Linked DNA regions of Homo sapiens: all the other regions are linked to region 1. The links come from fine-mapping of genetic effects on gene expression. A gene starts in region 1. Each other region holds a variant in brackets. All regions are shown on one strand. Distances are between the middles of the regions.

Region 1 (11,276 bases):
ACTGACTTAGTAGTGTTCTTTGCTAAAACTGGATTTTACAAGGAAGTACAATGATGGTGCTAGGAAGTTTCAGAAGACTAACTAAAGTTTGGTCAAGCAAAGAATTGTTGTTAGCAGTAATTTGAAATTGGTTTTATTACAATAGCTTGCCCTTGATTTATTTTTAGTTGTGTCCTAATCTCTTTCAGAAATATGGTCCATCTTAATTTGCATGAGTGACTTAATCTATATGAGCCTCAGAGAGGTACTTCTACAATAATTCATGTTTTATTATAAATTGCTTTTGAGTGGACACAAGGCGTTTCAGGAGGTAGTATTGCGCTAATTATCAATCCTTTAAAAATAATTAGAGGCTAAGTAACAAGAATTAAATCTAACTTCCTTTTGGGCCCCTTTATTAGTCAAGATGGATGTTTTCCACTTTAAGAGAGAAGCAAATGGCTTGATGGGCTGGCATATCAATGTAAACCTCTCTCTGACATCAGTACTTCTATACTTTTCCTACCACACAGAGCAGTATTGAATCAGGAGGTGATGAGGCTGCAAAGAAACTAATTATTATTATTATTATTATTATTATTATTATTATTTTTAGAGATAGAGTCTCACACGGTCCCCAGGCTGGAGTGCAGTGGCGTGATCTTGGCTCACTGCAACCTCCACCTCCCAGGTTCAAGCCATTCTCCTGCCTTGGCCTCCCAAGTAGCTGGGACTACAGGCGCGTGCCACCACGCCTAGGTTATTTTTGTATTTTTAGTAGAGACAGGGTTTCACCATGTTGACCAGGATGGTCTCGATCTCCTGACCTGATCTGCCCACCTAGGCCTCCCAAAGTGCTGGGATTACAGGGGTGGGCCACCATGCCAGGCCCGAAGGAACTAATTTTTAAAAATATTCACTGATCAGTTGTCCTTGAGAAGACTTGAAGCATTTCACTATTTTAAGTCAATCTCAAATTTGTCATCTGAGCAAAATAGAATAAAGATGCCACTGAACCTAGAGGAAAGATTAGGTAACCAGGAATCCTACTTTCAGGTTTCCTTTATCTCTTCTTTTTATGATCTCTTTGGAGTCTCAGTCCCAAGTCCTGCACTACTCTCCATGGTCATGGAGCACTCTGATACTGTTTCCATCTAAAAAAGAAAACAACTCCGAGAAGAAGGGGGTAGCCAGAGCTCTTCCTTGGAAAAGGATGACTTAAGGATAATTTGAGGAAGGAAAAAAGACTTTCTTTCTATAAAAATCTACTATTAGAGGCCACTCTTTTCTTTTCTTTTTTGAGGCAGGGTCTCACTCTGTAGCCCAGGCCAGTCTTGAACTCCTGGCCTCAAGCAACGCTCCTGCCTTGGCCTCCCAAAGTGCTGGGATTGCGGGTGTGAGCCATTGCACCTGGCCTAGAGTCACTCTTTTGGGTTAAGACGTTCTCTCTAGAAAGCCTCCGTTAATTATAGGTAAGGATTGATACATTGACCTATTACCTCAACTATGATTTCAGCAAAGATAATTTCACTATCCCAATCAGCTGTTAACTTAGAAAGCTAGACTTTTATGGTGTTAACCACACACACATACAGACGCACACACACGAGCAGCTTTGGGTCTTCCAATCCTATACTTAGCACATTGTAGCACAAAGAATCTCCTTAATATATTTTTATTAAGTTAATAGGTGAATAGGAAAGGCTGTAGTGTGTTATACGGGGAAATAGACTCAGGTGTGTCTAGATATTAAAGTCGGTATATTAAGGTTACCAAGCGTGAAAGATTTTGATGGAAGAATGAAAACATCCATGTCCAGGACTTCCAGTTTCATTTCTCAGTCACTAATTTCAAGTCACCAAATAAACAAAGTGAAAATGGGTGAAACGTACTTTGAGTTACAATAAGTTTATCTTAATTCATTGACTTTTCAACTGCTCAGATGTCTTAAAATTTTTTAAAAAGTAAGTTGTTATAGTAAAGAGCCACACAAATACTCATAGCAGAGGAACAATTTCTGGATTATGTCGGTGAGCTTTTTAAGGGTTTGGGGAGGATGAGAATAAAAGGGTGACTTTTTATTTTCAGTTTTTCTATCTGGATGTGTCAAATTCCTGATAACTTCTAACACTCAGCAATGGAAATTTAGAAGGTGCCTGAAAGAACAAATAGAATTTTCAGACCTGGAGAAATTCTAGTAATCATCACTCTGGGACATATTATTAAAATTAGTATTTTAAAAAAGAAAACAATCTTTCAGAAAGACAGGAAGTTTAGGAGCCAAAGCCAGAGGCCCTAATACAAATCGCCCCCACCTCCCCATCCCCCCATCCCCACCTTCTTCCCCGCCCTGTTCAAACACGCCCACAGCCCAGGAAATAATGAGACCCAAGTGATCCAGCTAGATAGAAAAAGTAGTTTGCTTGGCATCTCCCAAATTATCTTGAGCAAACAATAAAATAAGAAATGTTTCAGAAGACAATTCGGCTCCCAGGCCCAAACCAAAACTCGAACCTGGTACTTTTTGTAAGTGCGGGCCAAGAAAGGGGCTGTAAAGTTAAAGAGCCGGTGGCGCCTCTGAACACACCCGGGCAGGGCGAGCAGGATGTCCTTGTCCAGGGAGACCCCTTCTCCTGGCTTTGAGGAAGGTGCTCCCTATCCCCGCGGGTTCCTCCGCCAAGCGGGACGCCGCGCCGGGCGGGTGAGAGAAAGCCCGGGCAGGAGAGCACAGAGCCGGCGACTGGACGCGAGCGCGGGGCGGGTGGAGAGCGTCTCTCCGGGCGCCGCTGCTGTTGTCCCGGGTGCTGAAAAGCCGGGAACTTCCCGGGAAGCAGCGGCACTTTTCTCCCTGGAAGGTGGGTGTGGGGGTTCCAGACTGCGCACCTGCTAAACCCTCCTGGGTCCCCCGGGAGGGGTCCGCCAGATGTGCCCCTTCCCAGCCCCATTCGGGGGAGAAGGATGGGGGCGGGGGCGTGGGGGTGAGCACAGCCGGACACCGCAAGTGGGAACCTGGGGTGTCCTTCCCCGCAGCTCCCGGGCAGCCGCGCGCCGCGAACCCCGGTCCACCTGCAAGCAAGGCGGGCCGGGGGCAGAGGGCGCCGGGCTGTGCGGGGGAACCGGCCCGCGTCCCGGGATTGGGGGGCGGTGGAAGAGAGAGCGAGCGGGCATGCGCAGTGGGGCGGAGGAGGTGGCGATGGCCGGGGGAGGCGGGGGGACTGCTGTTTATTTGCAGCTGGGCCAACTCCGCGGCGCAGGCGGCGGCGGAGCGCGGGGAGCTCGCGGCGGGTCCAGCTGCCGCAGCACCATGCCCGAGCCCCCCTCCGGGCAGACGCCGCGCGCCGCCGGGGCCCCGGTAGGGGAGGATGCCAGACGCCCGGGAGAGGCCAGGGCAGCAGCGGCGGCGGCGGCGCGATGGTGGTGACCACCTCTGCCCGAGGCGGCGGCGGGGACCGCACACCCTCCCGGCGGCGGGGCTGCGGGCTAGCGCCGGCCGGGGCCGCGGCGCTGCTGGCCGGGGCAAGCTGCCTGTGCTACGGCCGCTCCCTGCAGGGCGAGTTCGTGCACGACGACGTGTGGGCGATCGTGAACAACCCCGACGTGCGGCCCGGCGCCCCGCTCCGCTGGGGCATCTTCACCAACGACTTCTGGGGCAAGGGCATGGCCGAGAACACCAGCCACAAGTCCTACCGGCCGCTCTGCGTCCTCACCTTCAAGTGAGTCCCTCACCTCGCGCTAGCCGCCGCTGCCTCCTCTACCCTCCGCCCGTCCCTCGGACCGGGAGAAGTTGCGGGACTGACTTGGGGGCATTTCATTTTTGCCGCCCTTTCCCTCCACGCCTCCCTCCTCTCCAGGATGTGCATGGCACTTTGCTCCGGGATCCACTGCCCGGCTAATCTGGGCTCTCGGGGCGGTTCGGGAGGCGCCGGCTGGGGAGTTGGGATCGAGTTTCTCAACTGTCTGCCCTCTCAGCGGGCTTCTCTCTCGAGGCAGGGCTGGGAGCGGGCTGGTGAAACCGCCTCCGCACCCCTTCGCCTGCCGGATCGTGACCAAGTGGGACTAGCGCGGACCCAGAGGGTTCCGGAGGGGTGGCGGTGGTGGCGATGCTTCCAAGTAGAGAATTTCTCGGAGGCTGTTGGGCAGCTTTGCAGATGAGAAGTGTATCAGCCCCTTAAGGGTTTCGTTCAGATGAGACGAGGCGGGAGCCTTGAGCTGACAGGGCTGCGTGGGTTCAGGAGAGGGAGCAGAAAACTCTCCCGAGCCCCCCAGCCCCCGCCTTGCACCCTTGGCTGCTCCCAGAGGCTCTCCAATCTGCCAGACTTCTCTGGATCTAGACTTTAGAAGGTGCAGAGAGAGGTAACGCAGAGCCTAGGCTTCTCCAGGGACCCTGGGGCCCCAGCCGAAATAGTTTTTCTTTTACAACCTCGGAGTCATGATTCAGCGTTTCTGGTGTGAATAAGCGTAAAGGGAACCGAGAATATGCCAGGTTTTTGAGGGGTGGAGTATTTTCTTTAATTTGAAAAGAAGCCTAGCTTCTGAGGAAAGAAGAGAAGTGCTCATTTAAGGGAAATGCTATCTTACACAATCAGGAGCTTGACTCAACCCTTTATAATGTGGCTCAGCATTGAAGTTCATTTTAACGCGCCGGTCAAAACTGTTGAAATAATATTGGTGCGCTATTATCGGCGTTTTAAGCCTTTTTGCAACGGGTGTAATAGGAACCCGTGTTTATGGTAATGATTATTTGAGACTGGGTTGGCAGCTTGAAAAGCCTGCTCTGGATGAGAGGCTGAGGCCTCTTGACAGGTGTCTCTGATGACTCAGAAAAGGAAACCATAGCAATCGGCAACAATTCATGGGCTTTTGACTTACGTCTTCCACTGAAAGTTTAATGTTTTTAAGGAGAGTGAGAAAATTACATATTTGACTTTGAAGAGAATGTGTTATAGACATTTGTTCTCTTAGAAAGTTGTTCTCGTTTTCTACTGAAAGATAACCTTGGCTAACCTCGCTATTCAGTTTCCCAGATGTTTCTTAAAATCTCCTTGGGACAAATATAAATGTTTCACTTCTAGATTGACCTGCTTTTTCATTATTACAGTCAGGGTTGTTGGTTAATTTAGGATGTGCAAGTTCACAGCATGAGATGTGCTTGCTATCTTTGTAACAGCCATGGAGACCATCCTGGTCACAGGTCTGAGTATTTTTCAATTAAAAAGGGCAGAGTCAAATGCCTGTGCCTACTTGCTGGAGAGTAGGGAAGGGTGTTTTCACTTCTTGACTTTCTAGAAGGTTTTCTTCTTTTTTCTCTGTCTTTTCTCTTTTTTTCTTTTTTGGGATGGGATCTCACTCTGTCCTCCAGCCTGGAGTGCAGTGGCATGATTATTGCTCACTGTAGCCTGAAACTTCTGGGCATAAGCAATTCTCCTGCCTCAGCCTCCCAAGTAGCTGGAACTACTACTGGCACATGCCGTGCATCCAGATATATTTTAAAATTTTTTTTGTAGATATGGGGTCTTCCTATGTTGTCTAGGCTGGTGTTGAACTCCTGGGCTAAGCGATCTTTAAGCCTCAGCCTCCCAGTGTGCTGGACTTGTGGGCATGAGCTACTGTACCTCACCTAAAATGTTTTATTTTTCTTCATAATGGAGACAGCAGGCACATAAGGGAGGGGTGGAGGGAGTAGACAAAGAAGTAAGACCATTGATTAAGAGGAAAATTGGCTAGGAGTTGACAGAACAAGGGCAAAGGAGAGTTGGGGGATTCAGGAGGAAGAGAGCTGAGGGACTCTTGTGGTAATCATTGATTGTAACAAGCAGCTTGGTGTCTAAGAGGCATGGCTTGCTGTATATTATATGCTACTGCCTATGAAAGATACACTCTTTTTTTGAGAAGATTGAGTTGCAAATCTAGAAGAGAAACACAGCACTAATTGGAAAGAGATAACTGCCTCTTCAGAAAGAGAATGTTAAGTAGTCTTTCTGTCCTCACATGCATTGATTTAAATAAGACTGGACAGTTTTCTTTATATTCACCTGAGGTATAGCATGAAGCTGGAGGATATCAGTGATTTTAGAACCATACAACTCTACAGGATGGTACAAGGAAGGACAGAAAGCCGTATTTATTAACTATTCGCTATGAACCAAGCATTGGCCTAGATACTTCACATAGATTACGTCTTTATGATTTTTATTTTAGATAGTGAAAACACAATTGAAGGGGCCCTTTAAATATGTGCAAACCATTTTAACTGTATCTTAAATTATGCTTGTTTGAGCAAAAACTTTGAGATTTCAAACCCGTTTTAAAAACTTTTTTAATGTAATTGTGCATTCCCATGCAGTTTTAAGTAATAATAGAGAGATTCCTTCTACTCTATCCATTTCCCCCAATGGTAACATCCTGTATTATTATGGTATAATATTACAACCAGGAAATTGATATTGATGCAATCTACAGCATTTAGTCAGATTTCACCCATTTTATATGTACTTCTATTTTTTTTATTTTACTAAGTGTGTATTTAGTTTTATGCAGCTTTATCATATGTGTAGATTTCAGAGAGTACCTCCACAGTCAAGATACGGAACAATTCCATCCCAAGGATCCTCAGTACTTCTTTATTGCAATCATGGACACCTAATCTATAACAACTGCCTAATCCATAATCCCCTCACCCAAATCCATAACAACCATGAATCTGTTCTCCATTATCATTTTGCCATTTTAATACTGTTGTATAAATGGAATCACATAGTATGTAACCTGTTGAGATTGGCTTCTTGCACTCAGCATGTCTCTGGATCTTCATTCAGGCTGTTGCATGTATCCATAGTTTGTTCCTTTTTATTGCTGAGTTGTATTCCATTGTATGGATATACCACAGTTTGTATAACCATTCACCTGTTGGGGACATCTAGGTTGTTTCCAACTTTTGGCTGGGATAAAGCTGCTATAAAAATTCACTTACAGGTTTTTATGTAAACATAGATTTTTATTTCTCTGTTCTAAATGCCCAGGAGTCCAATTGCTGGGCCATATGGTGGCTGCATGTTCATATGCTTTATATGAAGCTGCCATACTGTTTTCCAGATGTTCCTAGCCGCAGTGTCTGAGTAATCCAGTTTCTGTGCATTTCTGCCAGCACTTTGTATTGTTGCTGTTTTTTACTGTAGCCATTTTGATAGGTATGTAGTGATATCACACCTATATATGTACCTCATTAATTTACCATTCCCTAATGGGTGAAGCTATTGAACATCTGATATTAAACCAAAGAGTTTGGTAAATGTGCCTTTGTGTCTTTTGTCCATTTTTAAGTGTTTTTTTTAAATGTTGAGTATTGAAGTTCTTTATATATTCTAGATACATGTACTTTGTCAAGTATGTGATTGGTAAATATTTTCTCCCACTCTGTAGCTTGTCTTTTTGTCCTCCTCACAGGACCTTTCTCAGTGCAATACTCCAAACATATTTTTTATTAAAATGTAAGTTGATTTTTGATTCATTGAATGTATCTTACGCATACTGAGAGCTAGAAATTTCCTTAAGAATAAATGTAATTTATAGATGCATAATACTTTTTGCTATAAAGGTGGTTGCTTGTATACTAATAAATAATAAAAGTGCTTGCTTAGGTAGTAAAGATACTAATTATGTATTTTTTCAAGTAAGAAATGAACTAAAATTTGAAATGAGGAAATGGGTTGCAGACCATCTACTTCTACCAGTTTTGAGGGGATGGGACAGTGGAATATGAAAGCAGCTTACCAAGATGTGGTGGCTTTGCACTATGTCACTTTAGCTAAGTTGGGACTATGTTTCTTGGAATTGCCTTTGCAAGATGATCTGGGTTAGGGCTGACCATAAGAAAAATTTCTGCAAGATTTGGAAGGTGAAAGTGAAGTGGCTAAGATCACATTCAGAATGTTGGCATAGGTTTTGTTGCTGCCAGGCCTCTTGCAGTTTGTCACAGAAATGTTGGTGAACATGCTGTTGGTTTGCAGCAGCACCCAGGCCCTCAGCTCCTCCAGTGCTCTCCAGATCTCGTCTTTCAGCTACTTGGAATCATGGTGCAGGTGTGTATGCAGCTCTGCAGGGAAGAGTGCCAGTCTTTTTGCAAGCCTCTTGCATTGTTAAAGTTGGAGCCTTAAAGGCAGTGGAAAACAGACATGTATTTTAGCTCATCCTTGTGGGTTCCATTTTGCCTTTGCTTCCCCCTACTTCAAGTCCATTCACCCTCTCTTCCAGAATGGCCCTGCTGCCCTGCTGGCTTTCAACTTGGATAATAGACACAGAAGCATCACACTTACATAGGCTATTTAACCAGCCCCAGCAATAGTAAAAGGTCAGATCCCCATAGTACATCCCTTCTTCTGAATCACTCATGGTGGCTCTGGTTTTCTAGTCTAACCCTAACTGATACAAATGACCATCTCTTTGTGTTCCTTGAAGTGAATTTAGAATTACAATGAATTTCTGTTTCCAGTCAAATCTCAGATTCAGTCTTTTCATAAGATCATGCCCAAGGGCATGCAAGAATATTTTTGGACCATAGTGGTACAGAATCAAAACATCTGTGACTCTGCAGCAATAACATTTTTTTTTTGCTTCTTTTTCCTTCCCTGGCCATGACCTGTTTGTAAGCCTGAAATCAAGAGAAATGCATTAAGCTACTCTGTAGAGGGTGAATTGACACAGAACCAAACTCTATGATGTCCATAACCCCTCCCTTGAAAAATGGTCCAGAATGGTTTAAAATAAACTTAGCTTTTTAATTTTATCCCAACCCTTCTCTTGGGAAGAAGATACTGCTGAATTGTTCGCAGTGCCATTCCATTCAGTAAGCAGGTGGAAGTCTGCTTCAACAAGCAAGAACCAATGATTTTTTAATGTTAAAGATGGGGAAACTAAGCAAATGAAAGGACTTTAAAATCCTGATTCTTTCTCTGTGTGTTTAGCCTATTAGATTATATTTGCTATAATGCTTTATTTTATTAAGAGCTTCTGATGGTAATATAAACCATAAGAGTGAAAGTGGGTGGTTTAAAATGTCAGAGCCAAAAAATAGACTATCTTAATATGTGCAGCTGTAGGAATTTACAGCATTTTAATGTTTGATCTTGAAGGTTTTTTGCAGTAGTTTGCATCTTTTAGTTACAAATAGTATGCCAACCATGAAAATAAGCACTAGCTAACCTCCATGCCCACAACCTTAAAGAAACGGTGATATGTTTCTTTTGTTTCTATTCCTTTTCATTCAACTTCTGTGGGATTTCATTTTGACACAGCCTGTTGCCACAAGGCTGATAAGTTTGTTTTCTAAGTCTATCATAGGACACAAGTGAAGATTCTCTAGGATGTTTGACTAGATTGTCTAGGATGTTCAGTGACAGAAATAACCAAGGGAAAATGTGATTGGAGGCAAGAAAAATTTTATAAAGAAAAATGAAAAACTGCCTTTGAAAATTTTATGCCACCCTAAGGTTATCTTGGAAGCTCCAAGAGGTGGAGGTTGTGATTATAATCTAGTAGGATATACTTTATAGACTACAGTCTGGTAGTGTAGGAGGGACAGAAAGTGAGAGGAATATATTTTTGGACTCATGAGGGTTTTTATAGGTGAGTCCCTGAATCAAGGCTTGGAAATCACCTTCCGAAGCAGTCTATTATTACCAACCAATGTCTTTTCTGTCTTTCTTTGGAGCTACATTCATATTTTTCCTAACTTTGAGTATGTCATCATCTCACTTAAAGAGAGGGGTAAGGAGGTCGGGCACGGTGGCTCATGCCCTGTAATTCCAGCACTTTGGGAGACTGAGGCGGGCGGATCACTAAGTCAAGAGATCAAACCCATCCTGGCCAACATGGTGAAACCCCATCTCTACTAAAAATACAAAAATTAGCTGGGCATGGTGGTGTGCACCTGTAGTCCCAGCTGCTCGGGAGGCTGAGGCAGGAGAATTGCTCGAACCTGGGAGGCAGAGGTTTCAGTGAGCCGAGATTGCACCACCGCACTCCAGCCTGGCAACAGAGCGAGACTCTGTTAAAAAAAATAAAAAGAGAGAGAGGGGGGTAAGGAATGCCTGATCATGCCCACACAATGGCAGTGTTTCTTTCCCAAATAATAAGATACTGTTTCTTTTCTATGAAGTCCTGTTTGATCTGACCCCTGGCTACCTCTCTGATCCCTAGTCTACCAATCTCCACCTCATTCTCTGCACCAGCATTCCAGAGCCCTTGTTCTTTGCACAGGCCAAACCCACTGCTACCAAAGGCCTTGCATGTATTGGTGGTTCCTCCTGAATGCTTTTCCCCAGATCTGTGCAGGGCTTATGTGCTCACCACCTTTGGTTTCTGCCTAAATGTCACTTCATCCCGGAGGCCTTCCCTGGTGGCCAGGTGATCAAAGTAGCAAACACTCCTCTGTGTTTTTTTACCCTTATTTCCTTACCCTGCTTTGTTGAGTTTTACCTCCCCTCACTACAGTGTAAACTCCATGAGGTTTATCTCTAGCACCTACAACTAAGCCTGGCTTGCAAAGTAGGGACTCAAGATTTATCATTGAAAGAAGGAATATTATTTGTCAATTAAAAATGAATTAATTTTTTAAAGAATGAATAAATCCTTTTTGTGACTGCTCAGATTTTTCAGGTAAATACTAAGGTAAGGCTACATGATTATAATGTAGAGAAAAAGTCTGCTTGGTTTACTTTTTCACTAATTTACCTTTGTTCTTTCTTTCTCAAAGAGAAAAGTGGAGGCAGACTAGGAATTTCCTCAGATGTATACAGAGGATACCAATGGGTTCTGTTTACTGAGAGATTCTGAAAGGGATGACTTTGAATTTCTATTGGAACTTGCTGGAACTGTAACTCTGTGTAGAGAATGAAGATCTGTAGCGCTTTTGGATCTTACTCTTCTTAGGTGGCAGGTTGCAGCACAAATGGTTGGTGGATGCTTGCTGCAAAGTTCAAGGTGAGAAACAGCAGCTGTACCTTCAAAACCCAGAATTATAGGGGGTTCTCACTACACTCCAATCTCAGGTTCCTAAGATTCATCCATGCCTATGCTTTCTATAAGGAATGGCCTTGTTGGATCAAATGGAGTACAAGTACCTGAAAATATGTTATCAGAGAAACTAACATGACAGTGATTTTTTTCTGGTCTTCGTGCTGGATTCTTGGGAGGAAACTTCTGATCCCTTGGAATTTCCCAAGTGAGAGGAGTTTCTTTATTATTCATGATGGACTCCTGGGATCACACCTAAGTTTATGCTAAGGAGGAGTTGACTCATG
Region 2 (9,637 bases), 100 kb after region 1:
ACTGCTGTGGCAAGAGAGACCATGATTTAGTGTTTATTTATGTTACACACAATTGACTGCGGGTCCCTTGCGTATACACACGTAGACACACAAAAGCATATTTTGCGTTGAGGCTTATGTAGAATTTGATGAGTATAATTTAGTTCAGATGCTTCAAGATTTTCTTTAAATTACTTCTTTCTGGATTGGAATAATAATGTTTATCCTAACTTCTTTCTTTTTAAATCTTCTTTCTTCTACTTTTTGGGATTCTGTTTCTAGATGCTTTTTTGGGAAGAGTGATGTAAATGAATTTGACTTTGCTTTTTAAAAGTCAGAGTTTCTACTGATTTCAGTTTTAAACCCTCTTGACCTCGTGATTGAATCCTAAACCTGGTATTGTACATTAAAGGAATGAAGCCAGGAGTTCTGGTAATTCATTTGCCGACAAGGGTAACCATCTCCAGCTGCAGATGTTGAATCTATGTTTTAATATCTGTTCATGCTTTGAGTTTACTGTTCTTTAGTAATGAGGTGGCATGGCACAAGGGAAAAGACACAGGCTTTAGAACTAGGTTAGCTTAACTTTTTAAGAAAATTTGTTTATTTTATAACACAGATGCACAGGAAAATCTAGAAATAGTAGAGAGAGATTCTCTATCCCCTTTGTTCAGTTGCTTCCAATGGTTACATTGTACATAGCTATAGTACAATATCATAACCAGGAAATTGACATCCATGCAATATGTGTGTATAGTTCTATGCCATTTTATCATATCTGTGGATTCATGTAAGCACCACCACACTCAAGATATATAGCTACTCTGTCAACCCAAAGATCTCCCTCATGCTGTCTCTTTGTAGTTACACCCACTCTCTACCCCACAACCAACTCTAAGTCCTAGCAACCACTAATCAGTTTTCCATCTCTGTACTTGTGTCACTTTGAGAATGTGATGTAAATGGAATCATACATTATGTGGTCTCTTACAGTTGGCTTTTTTTCACCATAATGTCTTTTAGATTCATCCAAGTTGTTGACTGCATCAATAATTCTTTCCTTTGTATTGCTATGAAGTGTTACATAATACAGATGTACTATAGTTTGTTTAACCATTCACAGACTGTGGTACATTTTGGTTTTTTTTAGTAAATTTTTTTTCTTTCAGTTTTGCGCTATTACAACTAAAGCTGCCATGAGCATTCATGTACAGGTTTTTGTGTGGGCATTTTTTATTTATCTGGGATAAGTGCCCAGGAGTGCAACTGATGGGCTTTATGGTAACTGTATGTTGAGCTTTTTAAGACGCTGCCAAACTATATTCCAGAGTGACTCACGGTAATATAGGAGAGATCCTGTTTCTCTGGACTTCCCCAGTATTTGATATTGCTCTATTTTTCATTTTAGCTGTTCTAGTAGGTGGTTAGTGATACCAGTATTATCTCATTGTGGTTTTATTTTCATTTCCCTAATGGCTAGTGACATTGGCCATCTATTGGCTATTTGTATATATTCTGTAGTGAAACACCACTTCATGTCTTTTATCCATTTTCTAGTTGGATCACCTTTTTTGTTGTTGTTGAGTTTTGGGAGTTCTTAATTTATTATAGATACTAATTCTCTATCAAATAAGTATCCTTAAAAAACACTGTTTTTAGTTAAAATTTCAAACATATACACAATTTTTAAAATAAGTGTAATAAACCCCTCATCTTTCACCTTCAACAATTACTGTCATATGTAAAGGAATTAACACTAAATCCTAATATCATTAAATGGGCAATTACTCATTACATTTCCCTTCATTTCATGTTTTCACTTGTGTATTCTGAACCATATACAAATAATTTCTATACATTGCAATTGGTTGATATGCCTCTAAAGTCTCTATTAATCTGTAGATTCCACCTTCCCATCTCACTCTTTCTCCTCTTTTGCTTTTGCCTTTATTTTTGTGGGGGTGGGAGGGGGAGGGGCCTTGTAACACTTCCCACAATCTGCATTTTGCTGACTGTGCCCTATGATGTCAGTTGATGTGTGCCTCTGTCCACTGAATTTCCTGTAAGTTCACAGCTAGATCTAGAGGCTTGAGTGCATTCAAGGTTTCTCTTTTTGGTTAGAATACTTCATAGATGGTGCTGTGTACTTCTAGGAGGAAGTAAATAATTCTGGTTGTTTTTCTTTTTGTGAAGTGAGTTGCCATATACCTAGGTCCGTTATTTCAGTATTGGTTGAAAAACTGAAATTCTAATTCTAGTATTCTCTCTTAATTTACTAGCCAGAATATCTATCAAGAGAGACATTCCTTCATGAGACATTTGATTACCCTGAGAGGAAGGTACAGTTTATATAGGCAACACAGGACAAATGCTTGATTCTTTCATTTTCTTTACCTGTTTTTATTCTTACTAATGTTCAAATATTCCACCTTGGTCCACAGGAACTACTCTAAGTTACTTTATATGACTTCAGTTGTCATGCTTTATATTCCAGATATTTCATGTTCATCTTGTTTCTTTTTTTTTTTTTTTTTTTGGAGACAGGGTCTTACTCTGTTGCCCAGGCTGGTGTGCGGTGGTGCAATCTGGGCTCACTGCAACCTCTGCCTCCCAGGTTCAAGTGATTCTTCTGCCTCAGCCTCCCAAGTAGCTGGGATTACAGGCATGTGCCACCATGCCCGGCTAATTTTTGTATTTTTTGGTAGAGATGGGGTTTCACCATGTTGGCCAGGCTGGTCTCGAACTCCTGGCCTCAAGTGATCCACCCACCTCGGCCTCCCAAAGTGCTGGGATCAGTTAGACCTTCATTGCTTATTTAGTTTACTTCTCATCTGGCAGTTTCAGGGGTTGCCCCTACTTAAGAGTCTCATGTCCCACAAGGCACCATATCTCTTGTAACAACTCCACAGGCTTCCAGTGTTCACATAAGAGACATACCCAATTACAAGAATTAACACATTCAGGGAAGCCCAAATTACACCACTCTCATCAGGTATTTATGGGACATTTATAATTCCTCCTTGTTTAGTTGCAGTTTATCAATCAGGGATAATATTACCATAGGCAATATTGACTGTAACGTAGTTGGCATTCTATCTTCATCTGATTTCTAGTGGAACAGAGAGAAAATTAACTAAAAGTCACATTCTTATGTATAAAAGGAAAGGGCTTTATTAATTCTTTTCTAACTCTCCCTCTGAGCCACCACACCCAGCCTCATCTTATTTATTTTCTACCTCCGACCTGGAAACAGCCATTTGTTCAAGAGCTTTTGGTTCTTTTTCTTTGGAAATAATTTTAGGACCCAAATCAGGGCATTGTGGTGCTCATTCCTACTGGATAGCTCACTGTTTCTAGGCTTTTTCAGTGGAGACTTCTGTCAAAATCAATTATCTTTTAAAATATGAAAATAGATAACGAGCTCAGTCTGATGTTTTCTATTCAAATTCAGAGCTATAGGGATTTTGCTTAATCTCATTGATGGTACATTTCTGTCTCCCTTGCTGCCACTGAAAACTCTGGTTCCTAACGACACCAGCGTAATTACTTATTTGCTTTATTCCACATTACTCCCAGAAGTCTCAAAATAACAATGCCATCATTACCAGAAACAAAGTGATTATTAAAAATAGTGTGTGGGGTTTTTAATAATTCTTTTTGTTTTTAAGTTATATAGTACTAGGTA[T/C]ATATGGTCAAATTATTGAGATTTAAACCTACTTTATATAGTTTATGATTATGGATCATTTGTTTCATGTTTTTTTCTTTTATTTCATAATAATGTAAACACTGCTTCTAAATCTACAAAACAGGGTACAGTAAAGAGGTCTCTCTAGTCCTGAGGTCTCTCTAGTCCTCTCTATCCTGTTTCATCCCTCTACTTATAGGTTACCCTTTCTTCTTTTTCTCCTTCTTTTCCTCTTTCTTTTTTTATTCTTCTCTTCTTCAGTTTGGTTTAGCTTTAATTTAATGTATATAGCCTCCTACTTAGATAAATGATAGCATGTTGTACACATTTTTCCTTTATCTGCGATCACTCCATAGCAGTATATTAGCATCATCACTATGAATGTTGGTTATAGAGGAATGCTATTAGAATAGCCCATTCCATAAAGGTTTCTGAGCTGGCCTAACATATTTTTGTCTGGTCCTTGATCTTTAGTTCTTATATCTGATTTTAGAGATTCTGTCTTTCCTTATTTTTAATTTGTAAGAAATTTTACAAAATAATAGCGTTTACTGACTTTTGTTCTGACTATAGAAGTATTTCATGTTAATTACTAAAAATTCAGAACTACAGAAAATTATAAAATAAAGATTAAAATACATGAATCATATCAATACCCAGGGGAAACCTCTATTATTGTTTTGCTGCATAGCTCACTAATCTGTTGTTGTACATATATACATTTTAGCAACTGGATGAATATTGAATGTGTTGCTTTGTCATGTATTCTTTTATTTTTTGTTAGTAATATATAATGAGTGTTCCTGCATGTCTTTATTCTTCTAAAGATAATTTTAAAATCATTGAATGATATTGCACTGCATGGTTGTATGAAAATTTATTTAGCTATTCACCTATATTAGATATTTAGGTTGTATCCAGGTTTTTTATTAATAAATATTATGGACATAACTCTTTCTGTGCATTTCGGATTTGAGTGTGATTGCTAATGGTTGGAGAAATGTTTTAGGTTTTGATGTATGTTGCCAAATTGTTATTCAGACAAAATTCTACAGTTGTACAAATTTTTACTCCCATGGGAAGTCCATGATTTTTTTTTCCATTTCATGGTAGCCATATTCACATTGTGTTCTGTTATAGTTTTTTTAATGTAGTGTTTGTAAATACTGAGACACTAATGTTGCTTACCTAAGTTCTTTAGAGCATCTCACATTTGTTTCCAAAAGATGAATTTATAGATTTCTCCTTGCTTTTTGATGCTACTTCTCATTACTATTGGCATCTCCACTAGTTAAGATAACCATAGCCATGAACAGTGGCTCACACACAGTAGAAGCTTATTTCTTGTTCACATCAAGTCTGAAACAAATGTCCCTGATTAGTGGCACCTCATCTCTACACTATGATTCGGAAACCCACTGTCCCTCAATCTTGTGGCTCTGCATCTTCAAACAATGGCTGGAGGTCACCATGCTTGTCTTCATCAAGTAGGAAGAGAATGTTTGGGTGTTTAAATGTTATGGGAAGATTTTAGGGGCCAGACCTGGAATTGTTGCCTGTCACGTCCACTTACCTTCCTTTGGCTAGAATTCAGTCACATGGCCATCTCTAACTGTAAGCAAAGCAGAGAAGTTGTGTGCTCAGGAAGAAGAAGTAATATCTGGAGAACTATAAGCCAATCTCAGCCACCGTATAGCAGCACTTCTCTATGGTTTTATTTTGTTTTAGAAATGAAAGTCAGAAAATTGTGAGTTTGAAATATTAGTTTTGATTGCTCAGAAGTGACTTTTGTTCATCTCTGATTCTTGTATGTATCACCAACAGATGAAGTTGTTCAGTAAATGAGTTTCAGAATGTTGCAGAAATATTAGTTTATTAAATTTCTAAAATAAATTACTTCCCTGTTATCTGTGGGGGATACGTATCAAGAACTCCAGTGAATGCCGGAAACCATGGATAGTACCAAATCCTAGACATACTATTGCTACGTTTTTTCCTATATATACATACCTGTGATGAAGTTTAATTTATAAATTAGGTACAGTAAGAGATTAACAACAATAACATAATAAAATAGAGCAATTATAGCCATATGGCAGCATCGCTGCTTTTGCATGTGTGGGGCATTATTAAGTAAAATAAGGGTTCCTTGAGTACAAGCACTGTGATGCTGCGGCAGTCGATCTGATAACTGAGCTGGCTGCTACATCACTAATGGGTGAACAGAGTGGATATGCCGGACACAGGGAGGATTCACTTCCCAAGTGGGACCAAGTGGGATAATGTGAGATTTCATTATGCTACTCGGAACAACTTAAAAGGCATGTGATTTAAAACTTATGAATTTTTTCTTTCTGGAATTTTCCATTTCCTATTTTTGGACGGCAATTGACTGCAGGTAACTGAAACTGCAGATAAAGGGGGCTACCGCGGTATAACGATGGAATAGTTGTCTTTTGTAAATGAAGAAATTAAATCATTTAGTTGTCTGAGAATGGCTCATACAGTAGGATTAATTCATTTATCTTGTTTGGGTTGCTTGTGCTTCTATGCATATTTTATGGCACATATTTTATGTATGGAAATAACTGCAGGATGTGCTTATTAGTGAGTAGGCCCATTGGTCCTGTTAAGATGTGGTAAGAACAAAAACAAATAAACAACAACAAAAAAATCACAAGGTACTAAACAGACATGCAGATAAAGGGTTATTCATGCTGCAAATCTGATTTTATTTTTATTTGTAATAACCTTGATCCTGAAACCCATTACATTGACTAGATAAAGAAGAGAAACAGCAAAATTAGAGGCCAGTGAATTTATTTATGCTGTTTTCTTGAAGGTGGAACTGAAAATCCTAATGGCTTAAAATGATAAATGCTTTTAGGCAGAGGGATATCTGTGTGCCTGTCAGTACTTTCATTTCCACAGAAGGACCAGACTTGGACCTTGTCTGCATCTCCTCTGGAGGGCCTGATGTGAATTGTATTATTTTGGCCCTCAAATCATATTATAGGAGGACAGGATGTTTTTCTTCTTCACACACTGTGGCATGCCAGCCAGCTCTGTCAAGACTTAATGACTCCCCAACTGCCCACACTGATATGGCCTGGCTTCAGGGTTCATTCCAGCATGCCCACAAAATGCTTCATTTGGCTGCACGAGGGCATCATCTTCTATCAGTTTCTCATAGAGTGCTAGTTAGAAAATTGGTGATCAATCATGATTTTTAATCCCCTGCCTAGTGGAATTAGCACCATTTGCCGTGTCCTCACGTCTTGAAGAGAGACTGTGCCCAGTGCATCGCTCCTGGAGGTGACCTTTCGTTTGAAGGCAGAGTGTAGATGGGATCCCTGGAAATCGATCTCTGACTGACTATGGCAGGAATGCAGGCATCAGGTTTCCTACTTGAGCAAAGGATGTATCAAAATATATGCTCTGGAGTTTGATTCTCTCCTGATTAACATCTATTGCTTTTGTCAGTCTGAAGTATTCGCTTAACTTTTACAGTTTGGTTCTTTTGTCAGAGTAAGAGACCACTGAGTGCTGATAATAGTGATAGGACCCAGAAAATTGGAGTCTTCATATTTAAGGAGAGTGGGAATCATTTTGGATAATCTTATAGTCAATAAAGCTTGCATATACAAGGAAAAGGTAGTAAAAGAAAGTTACATAAAATAGGAAAACTCACAAACTTTTAAATTAAGTCCTAACCAATATTTAAAAATTAAAATGGATATCTGACACACGTAGCAGTGTATGAACAGATAAATGTTTCAAAATTACAAGTGTGAGGTTTTGGAATTTTAGTTTTGTTGAATGTTTAGGTTATTTGCAGCTAAGATTATTTAGGCACTATTGTGTCCATCCTTTATAGATATGGTGTGCTTTAAAATGAAAACCATCAAATTCCTTTTAATTAATGGCGTAAGCTTGATTCAATTTCGTTTTTGAAATATCAGCTTCTGTTAGAATCAACCAGGCAGCTTTATCATCCACTAAACAAAGTCATTATAATTCCATTGATTGCACACAGAGGGGGACTCTGTACAGTCTTAATGGTTATTAAACCCTTGTCTCTTCCTTCCCTCCTTTCCATTTTGTTACTTTCATGGAACAATGCTATTAAGAATACCTTATATTGGCTCATCCAAGTTAGATGAAAAGATTTGTCTGACAGCTGGAAAGCGTGGGTGAGAAAATTCTAGTTCTCATGTTTTCAGAATTAACAAGTTGAACCAATTAGTAGATATCTTCCACCAGAGAAACACTCGTTTTTGATTAAACTCTTATTCACAAGAAACAGAAAGTCATGGAGGGTGTGTGTGTGTGTGTGTGTGTGTGTGTGTGTGTGTGTGTGTATTTGCATGTGTGTCCAGGGCACAGAGAAACCACTTTTTTCTTTGACTTTTGCAGAACTACTCCTTAGCAGTTTATTCTACTGTACTGTACCAGCTTACTAGAGGATGGCACACAGGGTGACCAGGTTTTTCCAGGATTGTCCCAGTTTTAGTACTGAAGGTCCTGTGTCCCACGAAGCTCCTTAGTGCCAGGCAAACTGAATGGGTTGGTCACACTGGATGAAAATCCAGCTTCATGTATGAAAATCTCTATGATCTGGAAACTTTAGACTGGAAAACTTTCAGTGGACGTTCAGTTGGACTTGAGTTAAGTTTAGGACAGGAAAATTGTGTTTGTTAAAATAACAGTCTCAAATTGGGCCCTGATGTTTGTGGGGTTTGTAAATGTGGTGTTAAGACTTGTATGGTTAGGATTTTTTTAAACACAGTTTGATGAATTAAATGACTACTGTACAAAGTACCATGCTGAATCTGCAAGGGAAACTTAGCTGAATTAAGACAGAAACCAATGTTATTCTTCATTTTAACATTAAGTTACTTTGCACATGGTCCGGTGACTGGAAATATAGCAACACTGCTGTAATATGTCAGTGAGAAAATGAAATTGGCTGCAAAGAAAATGGAAACATTAGATTAAACAAGCCCCTGTGAAAATCATTAGGACAATGAAGCTGTCTAGTGGGTATTAAGTAATAATCATAGTAGTAGATCAGGGCTGCTGCTGGCCCATTGGGGATCTTTATGCAAAATAGAAAACACTGTGGGCATGAGGCATGGTGGGTGCGTGATGTTTGAGGTGTGGGCACTTCTTGCTCTTTTGAGTAAATTAGGAAAAGGCCCCCCCTTCTTTACGGCAGGTAAAGCCAGTGCCTGGGCACCACAGGTCGTTGAACAGAGCATGGGCTGGATTTGAGCCCTCACAGGCCACCTCCCTCCCTCCTCCTGAGCTGGCTGCCTTGTGCATGGACAACCTTTACAGCTGAACTAAAGGAGTCCCGTCAGCAAGAAGAGTGTTGAATGCTGAATTATAGCTTTGTCTTCTAGGAAAATATTTCGTTCTTTTTTTCTTTTCCTTCCAGGAAGGAGGGAGCTGACAGAACTTGAGAGAGATTAAATCTTTTCCTCTACTAATCCTAGCTGCATTCCTTTACTCATTTGTTTCTGATTGTTTTTTTCTGGTCTTGAAGGATAGGCCATAGGGTTTTAGTATTTTCAGCTGATTTCTGGTTACTATTCTAATAATGCTACTTTGAGCACCTTTATGTGCTGGGCACTGTGGTGAGACACTTGCATATATCATCTCATAGAAATATTTTTGATGACTTTGTAAGGTGGAAATTATCTTGACCTAGGGAGGCTAAAAGGCCTGCGTAGTCTCCTAGCTTATAACTGAATGAGCTGGAATTCAAACCCAGATCTCTGTGACCCCAGGGCCTGTGGTTGCTTCACCACACCAGCTGCCTCTGTGTTGTCAAGAGTACTGTCCTTCGAGAGCATAACATAAAGGGACCCTGAGAAGTCCCTCTGGCAAGGCTGGGCGTGGTGGCTCACACCTGTAATCCCAGCACTTTGGGAGGCCGAGGCTGGCAGATCACCTGAGATTGGGAGTTCG
Region 3 (11,276 bases), 120 kb after region 1:
GGCCTCCCAGGTTCAGGTGATTCTCCTGCCTCAGCCTCCTAAGTAGCTGGGATTACAGGCACATGCCACCACACCCAGCTAATTTTATTTTGTATTTTTAGTAGAGATGGGGTTTCACCATGCTGGTCAGGCTGGTCTCACACCCCTGACCTCGTGATCCGCCCACCTCAGCCTCCCAAAGTGCTGGGATTACAGGCGTAAGCCACTGCGCCTGGCTGACTTTTTGATAATTTCTTAAATGGATCAGGTATATCTTGGTATCCTGAATTCCTATCCTTTTTTTTCTTTTTTTTTGAGACAGAGTCTCGTGCTGTGGCCCAGGCTGGAATGCAGTGGCACGATCTCAGCTAGCTCACTGAAACCTCCACCTTCTGGGCTCAAGCAATCCTCCCACCTCAGTTTCCTGAGTAGCTGGGACTACAGGCATGTGCCACCATGCCAGGCTAATTTTTTTGTATTTTTAATACAGATGAGGTTTTGCAGTGTTACTCAGGCTGGTCTGGAACTCCTAAGCTCAAGCAGTCTGCCTGTCTCAGCCTCCCACAGTGCTGGGATCACAGGCATGAGCCACCACACTGACCCTGAATTCATGTCCTTTCAAATGTATGTCACTGATGTGTACAAACATCTGTGAGAATAGTATTTGAATTTCAAGCATCCTCCTGGGACGGTAAAGACAGAGATTTTGTTGGAAATGCCGTGAGAGGTAGCAGAGCTTTTGTGATTAAGGGCACAGACTGAATTTATGACACCCCTGTCTTACTACCTGTGGAACCTTGGGACAAGTTATTTGACCATTAATGCCTCAGTTTCCCCACTTGCAACATTAAGATATTAATAGTGCCCGTCTGACAGGAATGTGCTAAGGATTACAGGCATTAGAACCATGCCTGGGGCACAGTAGGTATTCATTAAATGGTATTTGCTGCTGTCATTAACAGGAAATGTATTTCACTAGTTTACCCAGACAGTCCCAGTATCAAATACTCTTTTTCACTAGCTTAATTATACTTGAATTTATCCATCCATGTATCCCAGTAAAAGGATCAGAAAATATCATTATAGTACTATTGACTGTTTTAATCTTTTTCTTAGTGCAAACGTCTACTTGTGCACTTACACAAATGTGTATTGCAAGTAGCAGTGATTTTATTGCATGGATTATTTAGTCTTTGGTTTGCAACAAACTTGGATGGATGGAAATAACGGAAAACACAGCAAATGTGTGGTCAGAGAGGAGACCAGTGATGCAGCAAAAAGGCATTGAATTGGCCATCAGGAGACTCAATCCTGGTGCTAGACCCACTGCTCCCTAGGTCTAAATCTGTACAATGGGGCCAGTTCTCTCTGTTCTGCCCACTTCATGAATATATCTCAAAGATTAAATGTTAGAATGAATCGAAAAGCTCTTTGACACATAAATGCCATACAAATACATACTATGTATCCTCTTCTAAAGGGAGTTTATTTGGCAAATTAAATATTCTTCTTAGTAGCAAGTTTTTATATATACCAAATTGATGACCAACTAACAAAAGATTATAGTAGAAACATACTTAACACCTAAATCATACTGCTAAGTAAACGTAACACATGCTTTTCTCACTTATTCTTATGATAAGGTCTCTCTATCTACTTGAACGAGAACCTCTTATTTGTTTCTACATCTGGTATCTCGGAAATTTCCAAAATAGCTGTCTACTTCCTGGTGTTCACCATGTCCCCCTTGAGGCTGCTGGACCTCTTGTTCTTTGTTATGGACTTCAGAGTGGGCACTCTACCAATGTCATGCAATGCTAACACTGCACTATTGGAAATCAGATGGGGTTATCTCTCTGTGTTAAGCCCTTCACTGACTGTCCATTGCCATCAGAATAAAGTCTAAACTCCACAATGGGCCATGAAGTCCCGGAGTGAAAGGGCCCCTGCCTACCACTTTAGTCTCTCTGTTCACCACTGTACCAGTATTAGATCTTCCAGCCATATGGACTTCTTTCACTTTCTCCCTCTGAGCTTGCCCTCTCAATCTTAGGCCTCTGTATATATATCATATTCTATCTCTTTGCACCTAATTCACTTCTCATCTTCCTCAGGTGTCAGCTACATTTGTCACTTGGAGCATCCTCATCTGTCCCACTCCCTGTTTCTGCTGGTTGCTTCTCTCTGTGGGACAGGCTGGTTGGCCATCTCACCACACAGTGACGCCCTCCCAGCTCTGCTCATTCTCCTTCTTACCATTTTTTCTCACTTAGAATTTCTGAGTCCACGGTACATGGATGGCACTTGTGTTTCAACCTGCAGCAATCACTACATGCGTTAACTTTTAAAAGCGTGCTTATTAAAAGGACTTTCAAAAATTGTGCACTGTTAACTTCATTCATTTGTATGAAAAGCCTTCATTGTAGAACTGTATGAACTGAAGAAGATATTGAAATGATCTTTATCACTTTTAATTAATTAGAAGCTGGGGCCAGGAGCAGTGGCTCATGCCTGTAATCCCAGCACTTTGGGAGGCCAAGGTGGGTGGATCACCTGAGGTCAGGAGTTCAAGACCAGCCTGGCCAACATGGCAAAACCCTGTCTCTACTAAAAGTACAAAAATTAGCCAGGCATGGTGGCATGTGCCTGTAATCCCAGCTACTAGAGGGGCTGAGGCAGGAGGATCACTTGAACCTGGGAGTTGGAGGTTGCAGTGAGCTGAGATCGTGCCACTGCACTCCAGCCTGGGTGACAGAGTGGGACTCCATCTCAAAAAAAAAAAAAAAAAAAAAAAAGATAAGTTGGTATGGTTTGAATGTGGAATCCCTTCCAAAATTTGCATTGAAACTTAATCCCCATTGTGGTAGTATTAAGAGTGAGGCCTTCTGGGAGGTGCATTAGTCAACGCCCTTGTAAAAGAGGCTTCAGAGAGAGTTTATGTCTCTTGCTTTTCTGCTCTTCTGCCATGCGAGGATGCAGCAAGAAGGCCTTCACCAGGCCTCCCAGATGCTGGTGCCTTGATCTTGCACTCTCCAGCCTCCAGGACTAGAAGAAATAAATTTCTGTTCTTTGTAAGTTACTCAGTCTGTGGTATTTTATTACAGCACCATGAACAGACTAAGACAGAAGTCATTGTGTTGTTAACATGCAGAAATGCAGTTTAACAATGATCTGTGTTGGAAACATGCTGAATAAACCAGCTCTATTTTACTTCTGTGCTGTACAGAGTAGTGAATGCTTGATTTGGATTTAGATTTGGGTCTCACCTTTGCCTCTTGCCAGCCATGAGATCCCTGAGTAAGTACCTCCTCCGCCTCATTTGCAAGACAGGGACAAGTATGGACTCACAGGGCTAGTATGAAATAAAAATGGTAAGGTGCTTAGCACAGTGATTAGTGCCTATTAAATGGATTCAGTACCTGCCATCACTAATGAATTGAAACTTCCCTGGGACTGTTAATGAGAGACAAGGGTGATGTCTGAAATTTTTGCTATTAGTTGTAGAAGGAATAAAAAACTAGGGCCTCCAACTAAATTAATCATAGAGGGAATAAAAATAAGGTCCTCTAAGTAAATTGATGAAGCTTAAACTCATTGACCTTTGACACTGAAACATCATGACCTTTTTGCAGGCCAAGTAACATTTCTGGGCATCATTTTTTTCCCTCATTATAAAACTACATGAGCTGTTTTGATTCCTTTCACCTCTAACTTTAATTTGCAGAATGGTTAAGAGAACTGAAATTATTTTCTCCTATGGCTTCTTTGTCGTCATTTTCACCGTTTAATATATGATAATTGAAGTAACTGTTTCCTTGGAAGTAACTTGAATTCAGAGTTTAAAATTTCTGGAAGGAAAATTTATCATAGCCTTAGAATGGGGTATTGAAGGTCAGTCTGAGTTTCTGAGTAGATAGAACTGAAATATGCATCATTGTTTTCTTAGAATAGTGAGCTCCTTTCCTTCAGAATCTTTATTTGAATATCAAAGGAGACATCAAAGGTTGTTCGACTCCTCCATGGAATGCCTTTGCCTATTAAGGTTTAGACGAGGCACTTCATGGGTTCAAGGAAAGTACATTAAAGAGAGAACCCATAAACACTTAAGTTTCCTTTATTGTTAAGTGTCAAAAGACACTTAAAATTCTTTTGTTGTTTTTGTTAAGCTTTTGCTTTTTTTCTGATGTGAGCTGTGTCTTTGCTATATTCTGATCAACTGAGAAATCTTTTTTCTTGAGTTTCAAAGAGAAGCAGTAAATCTGCATTTCTGTTGAAAAAGCTCTGATTCCAAAACATTTTTTTGATCTGAATATGTGACTCTTTACTAATTTCCTTTTTGCGTTGAAAGAGCAAAGGAAGTTAAGTCAATTAAGATTGATGTTCTAGAAGAAATTTCATATATCACTGTTTATGATTTGTTGCTATAATGTTAAACAGTTACAATTCATTGTATCTGAGATGTTTGCTACCTGGAGCTGACATTTAGGCAAAAATTATCAGGTGTTTATAGATTCTGAGAACAGCTGGAAAGACTAATTTCATATCTTCATTGAAATCATTAGTATTCCGGGTAAGGGAAATGGCACTATTACCATTTCCAGTGGAAAGTGGTTTTTCTCTTCCAACTTGCTGCCACATTCCAAACTGTGAGCACTTTTATTTTGTACCCTGATCTACCACGAGAGGGTAAGGAAAACACAGAAAAAGAAAAGGGGTAGGCCGGGTGTGGTGGCTCACACCTGTAATCCCAGCACTTTGGGAGGCAGAGGCGGGTGGATCACGAGGTCAGGAGATCGAGACCATCCTGGCTAACACAGTGAAACCCCGTCTCTACTAAAAATACAACAACAACAACAAAAAAAAAATTAGCCAGGCATGGTGGTAGTCCCAGCTACTCAGGAGGCTGAGGCAGGAAAATGGCATGAACCCAGGAAGCGGAGCTTGCAGTGAGCCGAGATTGTGCCACTGCACTCCAGCCTGGGTGACAGAGCGAGACTCCGTCTCCAAAAAAAAAAAAAAAAGAAAAAAGAAAAAAAGAAAGAAAAGAAAAGGGGTAGATGTTTACAATTTGATTTGGCTCAGTAAGCATTTATTGATCATCTTGCTATATGTGTTAAAAATATTCAAATAACACTTGTTAAAGCACTGTAAGGAAAACCTTAAGGTGAGGATGGGTCTGTTGCAATTGATACGGAGACCACTGTGATGGAATTTTGCAGTAGTGGAGAGAGTTGGGGCTTAACTCTGAATATAGCATGGACAAGTGGGAATTTATAGCCAGTGAGCAGGGTGTGGTGGGTTGGGGGGGCATCAGTGGATGGAAAATTACTAAGAGAAAACATCATGAATAAGGGAGAATTCTGGCTAAATAGACCTAACAGGATTATTCCTAAAGATAGGCCAGGGTGATGAGACATCTCCTGGGAGACGGTGGAGGATGAAAAACTTGATTAGATATTGACAGTGATCAGCTCTGATGGTGGGGGTTTCTGGCTAAACTGATTTAGCGGGATTCTCGCTAAGACTGGATTTTACAAGAAAGTACACAGATGGGCCTAGGAGAAGGTTCAGGAACCTGACTAGGTTTTGGTCAAACAAAGAAACTTTGTCATATGATCAATTATTTATTGACGTGATAATTCTGTGTTAACAAAGGTCATTGATTTATAATAAGCATTTATTTAGTTCTCAAGATTATGGGTGGGTAGATGATTATGGTTGGCTGGTTGTTCTGATCTCTGCTAATATCTCTCAATAGGATTTGAGGACCAAGTAACTATGGATGGTAAACTTGACCTTTATTTGAACATGATATACTGGGATGGTGGATGTGAGTAGTCAGAAAATTTGGGTATGTGGGAGCGTAGATTAGGGAATTTACTATGGCTAACCTTAGTCTTTTGCTTTTATTTGGCAAGAATCAGAAGTTGTTA[C/T]AAATACTGTTTTACAATGCCAATAACCTTGATGCCAATACCCTCGATTAATGTTCAACTGTTTTTTCATATGCAACTTCAAATTTTGAAGGGCCTCCTCCAGGTGAAGGGTCAACTAATATTTGACTTTTCACGAATCCCTTGACATTCCTTTCTCTTTTTTTTTGAAATTGGGTAGTTTCTTCGTTTTTCCTTCGTCAGTTTTGGTGTCATCAGTTGGTGAGAACATCCAAGGATCACAATATTTTAGACCTAAAACTGACCCTGAGACCATTTGGTCTAACATTCATTAATAAAGGAAGGAAGTAAAGCTCAGGTAGATTTATTTTACATCATGTGACAAGTTAGATGGGATCAGAGGAATAGAACCCTGGACCCTTAGTTCTCATTCTGTTGGTTTCATCAGTGGTCTGGTTTTGTTGTTGACATGTTCTCTGGCTTTGCAAGGAAAAGAATGGAGAACTTGACTGGAATTAGAAAAAAATAGTAATAGCATTTACATAGTAAATTGTATTTGAAGACAATTTTAGGTACTTTATCTTATAGTTGCAATGAATAGCTGAGAGAATCTGATGTCATAGTTAAGTATTATTTCCAGTTTTATGTTCTCCTCCTTTAGAAGAAAGAAATTATAATGTTCTTCCTCATGGAATTGTTGTAAGTGGTGAATAAGTTACTACACTCAAATCACTTAGATTAGTGTCTGGGACATATTAGTTGTTGCTATTTTTATTATTGCTGTTAATAGTATTGTTATTGAGTGTTGTTATTTGGTTCTACTTCACAGATCGTGTGTATTGGACTGATGGGGAAAGTTTGTTTATTTTTGGTGTGGGTAGGGGAAGAGGAAAAGATGCAGAGAATTTAGCCCTTAGAGTGCTCCTGTCTGAGCTTAGGGATCTCAGCCTCTGACCTAGTGTTTACCAAAAAAGAGGGCCATGTTATTTTGGGTTACTTTCTCATTTACTATTGGTCAACAACTAGAAATAGAAATCTTGAAGAGGTCATCTTTTTTTTTCGTCCACTGCTCTCTTTACCAATTTAGGCTTTCATTACATTGGGATGCTACATTTTATTTTATTTTATTTTTTTTATTTTTTTATTTTTTTATTTTTTATTTTTATTTTTTTGAGACGGAGTCTCGCTCTGTCGCCCAGGCTGGAGTGCAGTGGCGGGATCTCGGCTCACTGCAAGCTCCGCCTCCCGGGTTCACGCCATTCTCCTTCCTCAGCCTCCCAAGTAGCTGGGACTACAGGCGCCCGCCACTACGCCCGGCTAATTTTTTGTATTTTTAGTAGAGACGGGGTTTCACCGTTTTAGCCGGGATGGTCTCGATCTCCTGACCTCGTGATCCGCCGCTACATTTTAACAATAAATTATTTGGTGCCTTTAGCTTCTTGAGAAATGGACTTTCTCAGGAAACCAGGGGACACTTTACAAATATGACTCAGTGAAATAGCCATCATAGCAAGCTTTCAGAGAAACAAAATATGGAGAATTGGCTGGGTGTGGTGGCTCACGCCTGTAATCCCAGCACTTTGAGAGGCCGAGGTGGGTGGATCACCTGAGGTCAGGAGTTTGAGACCAGCCTGGCCAACATGGCGAAACCCTGTCTCTACTAAAAGTACAAATATTAGCCAGGCATGGTGGCGGGCTCCTGTAATCCTAGCTACTCATGAGGATGAGGCAGGAGAATAGCTTGAACCCGGGAGGCAGAAGTTGCAGTGAGCTGAGATCACGCCACTACACTCTAGCCTGGGCGACAAGAGTAAGACTCTGTTTCAGAAAAAAGAAAAGGAAAATTTACCTAAAAATATCCTAAACTTTGTGGTTTGTTGTTCTATAGAAAGGAAAACCACTGCTAATTTTTCCACTATGTTAAAATAAACAGGCAACAGAGGGAACTTGAGGAAGGACGTTTCCAGAAGCAGATCACCCCAGAAAGTGCCTTTTTATTCAGATGTATTACTTCTCCAGCCCTCCCCAGCACCTTTTCCATTTCCACTGTGTCATTCTCTTTGCCTTTCTGCTGCCATTGATACATCCTGAAAAGGAACAGCAGAAATAACCAGAGTGGTCGTGGTTGAGTTGGCCTGAAAATAATAGTCACAATAGAGGCAGAGCTGAGAGAAGGACGCTGAGCAGGGCTTTACCTTTTAGGCAACGAAGAACCCAGTTGACACTAAAGATCGAAGTCAAGGACTTTGCCTCAGAAAAATACACACAAAATCTTGTGTAAATTTCAGGAAGCAGCGGACCCCCTAAAGCCCATTTTGGGACAGTAGCTATCCCCGTGGGTTGTGAGAGCTGACAGTATCCCTGGTGTTCTTTCTTGTCAAGCTCTCTGTTGGCAGCTAAGGAAGATGAAAGGGATTTAAATGCAGTGCTTGAGGATGGATCCAGTCCAGAGCTTGCTAAAAGCCAACTCTCTTTTGTGTTTTTTGGACTCCTCGTTTTCTCCACTCATTAAATACTTGAACGGCCAGATCTGAGCATGTATCACTTCCACAGCTCTTTATGGACCAGGCAGAGGAAAAGAGAGGTGAGAAGGAAGCGTGAGGCTCTCACCTCCTCACAGTACCATTTGTTACAAAGCAGAGGAGCCACATGTGTTTTGTAAGCAATCCTCTTTTTTTTTTTTTTTTTTTTTGAGACGGAGTCTCGCTCTGTCACCCAAGCTGGACTGTCACCCAAGCTGGAGTGTAGTGGCACGATCTCGGCTCACTGCAACCTCCGCCTCCCGGGTTCAAATGATTCTTCTGTCTCAGCCTTCCGAGTAGCTGGGACTACAGGTGTCTGCCACCACGCCTGGCTAATTTTTGTATTTTTAATAGAGATGGGGTTTCACCATATTGACCAGGCTGGTCTCGAACTCCTGACCTCGTGATCCGCCTGCCTCCGCCTCCCAAAGTGCTGGGATTACAGGCGTGAGCCACCTCACCTGGCCATTGTAAGCAATCCTCAAGGTGGATAGACATTTCTTTGTGAGATATTAACCCACTCTGGTTTTTACAAAAGGATTTCTTACCTTATAGAACATTACCTTTGTGTAAAGAGACCTCATGCAGATTTTAATGCAAATTTTGTTGGGGAAAACCCCTTTGAGGAAAAATTGGATTTAAAAAGGAGAAAAAAACAATGAAAAGGGATAGAGGAAATAAGGATGAGGTGGGAAGTGCTTGCGGTTTATGCTATTTGATTTGACTTTTGTTTTCCCCCTCCATTCTGTATTTTCCGTGTAGAATTTTGCATGTAGGTGAAAATGACTTATGACTTATTTTATGTTTTCATTTGGGGCTTCTTAATACCGTCTCTTGATTCCCTTTCATCATCTTTTTCTAAAACCAGCCAACCACTTGTCTTATATGTAGATATCCAGAACTCCCAATTCCTATAAGTGAGTAAGCTACAGCAGGGCAGGATCCACACAGGTTCCTGCCCCTCTAGAAGCTGACGTTCTTGTAACCTAGTTTGGTTCCAAGAACCACAGGGAGGTGAGAAAATTATTCACTGGATACCAGTGAGCTCTAATCCTAACACAGATACTCATAACTTTGTTGCCTTAAAAAAATTATTTAACTGAGTGGGTGCAGTGGCTCACGCCTGTAATCTCAGCACTTTGGGAGGCTGAGGTGGGTGGATCACCTGAGGTCAGGAGTTCAAGACCAGCCTGGCCAACATGGCAAAACGCCATCTGTACTAAAAATACAAAAATACTAAAAATACAAAAATACTAAAAATACAAAAAGTACCTGTAGTCCCAACTACTCGGGAGGCTGAGGCATGAGAATCGCTTGAACCTGGGAGGTGGAGGTTGCAGTGAGCTGAGATCGCACCACTGCACTCCAGCCTGGGCGACGAGCAAAACTCCGTCTCAAAAAAAAAAAAAAAAAAAAATTACTTAACCTCCTACAACCTTGGCATCTTCTATTTTTAGAGGTAAGAGATCTGTGAGGTATTTTGTGGATGGAAGACATTGGAGCCTTCAAATTATATTAAGTAGGTAAATAAACTCTTATTTTGTTTAAGATTATCCCTGTGACCAGTGTAACTGTATTGTTTTCAAAATGACTGGGTTATTTGGGATTCGATGGGATAGTAATATTTATAGCTAACAGAGCTGAGTCCTGTTCTAGATATTATCTCATTTGTTCCTCCCAACTTTCCTGTGAGGTAGATACTATTATTGTCTCCCTTTTATAAGTGAGTAAAATAGATGTGCAAAGAGGTTCGGAAACTTGCCCGAGGTCTCCTGGGCTCTCAGCAGCAGCAGAACTGGGAACGGAAACCCAGGTGTTCTGGCTCCAGAGGCCCTGCTCTCAGCATTGTTCTCTGCAGCCTTCTTCAGAGCTGCAGCGTCTTCACCTTGAAAGGAGAACATTGTGTCTGGTAGACACACTTATCTAAGATTTTTTTTCTTTCCCGTTTTAGGTATCTGAGAGCAAGCAGCAATAGAAATTTCCTGCTTACCATGAGACCATTTTTAAAAAGGGCCATTTTGGTCCTAAGTTATGTAAGTATATATATATATATATATATACTTTTGAAATATCTGATAAGGAATGTTTCCACTCTATCTCAGCTCAGACATGTAATTCAAATTATTTAATAGAATCAGCAATAGACTCTAACATCATGACATTGGGATCAAACAGTTGGCATGCCGTAATGTTACAAAGCGTCCAAAGGTATATATGAAAGCATTCCAGGGATATGTGGATTTAATGATGTGGACAATGTGAACTGCAGTATTCTATGAGTCCCTTTCAAGATGCTGAGGCTGAGTTGTCTCAAGAGGAGGCAGTGCAATCCTGGCTGTATCAGTTGTCTATTGCTGCATAACAAACCACCCCCAGCTTTAGTGGCTTAAATATAACAACCCTGTATTTGCCCTACCTGCTTTAGTTTGGGCAGCATTCAGCTTTTCGGTTCTTCTGATCATCATGATTTGGGGCTGAGGTTACTCAATGAAGTTTATTCAGCTATCGTCTGAGCCAGTTCATCTCAGTTCTCCTCTACGTGATATCTCATCCCCGAGGGCCTCTCCCTGTTAGTTCTTTTTCCAGAGGGGTAGTCAAGACTTCCTTGCCACATGGCAGCTGGTTTCTAAAAGAATGAACTAAAAGTTGCTGCACCTCCCAAAGATTAGGTCCAGAACAGAGGTAAGGTACCTTCTGCATGTTCTGTTGGTCAGTACAAGCCAGCCACAAGACTAACTCAGATTTAAGGGAAGGGGTGACTGACTTCATTCCCTGTTAGAGGAACAGAATGCACCTGCAAAAAGGGTGGAGATTATTGGTGGCAATCTCACTGAATCTTCTTATTTTCTGAAGGTGCTTGTCATTTTGTACTTCCGTCTGTGGA

What was found. PIP is the estimated chance that this variant, and not a neighbour inherited with it, causes the effect.
Region 2: its variant is fine-mapped to the expression of TMTC1 in whole blood (INTERVAL, PIP 0.99).
Region 3: its variant is fine-mapped to the expression of TMTC1 in liver (GTEx, PIP above 0.99).

Annotation. Positions count from the first base shown.
Region 1 is chr12:29,775,866-29,787,141 of GRCh38, reverse strand. It overlaps TMTC1 (transmembrane O-mannosyltransferase targeting cadherins 1), which reads left to right and starts at 3,200. Exons shown (of 18, transcript NM_001193451.2): 1 at 3,200-3,692. The coding sequence starts at 3,391.
Region 2 is chr12:29,673,978-29,683,614 of GRCh38, reverse strand. All of the region lies in intron 5 of TMTC1 (transmembrane O-mannosyltransferase targeting cadherins 1), which reads left to right. Among named protein-coding and RNA genes, the nearest start is that of TMTC1, 110 kb to the left of the region's middle. The variant T/C (reference allele first, on the strand shown) is at 3,665.
Region 3 is chr12:29,659,953-29,671,228 of GRCh38, reverse strand. All of the region lies in intron 5 of TMTC1 (transmembrane O-mannosyltransferase targeting cadherins 1), which reads left to right. Among named protein-coding and RNA genes, the nearest start is that of TMTC1, 120 kb to the left of the region's middle. RefSeq lists an enhancer at 8,017-8,518. The variant C/T (reference allele first, on the strand shown) is at 5,913.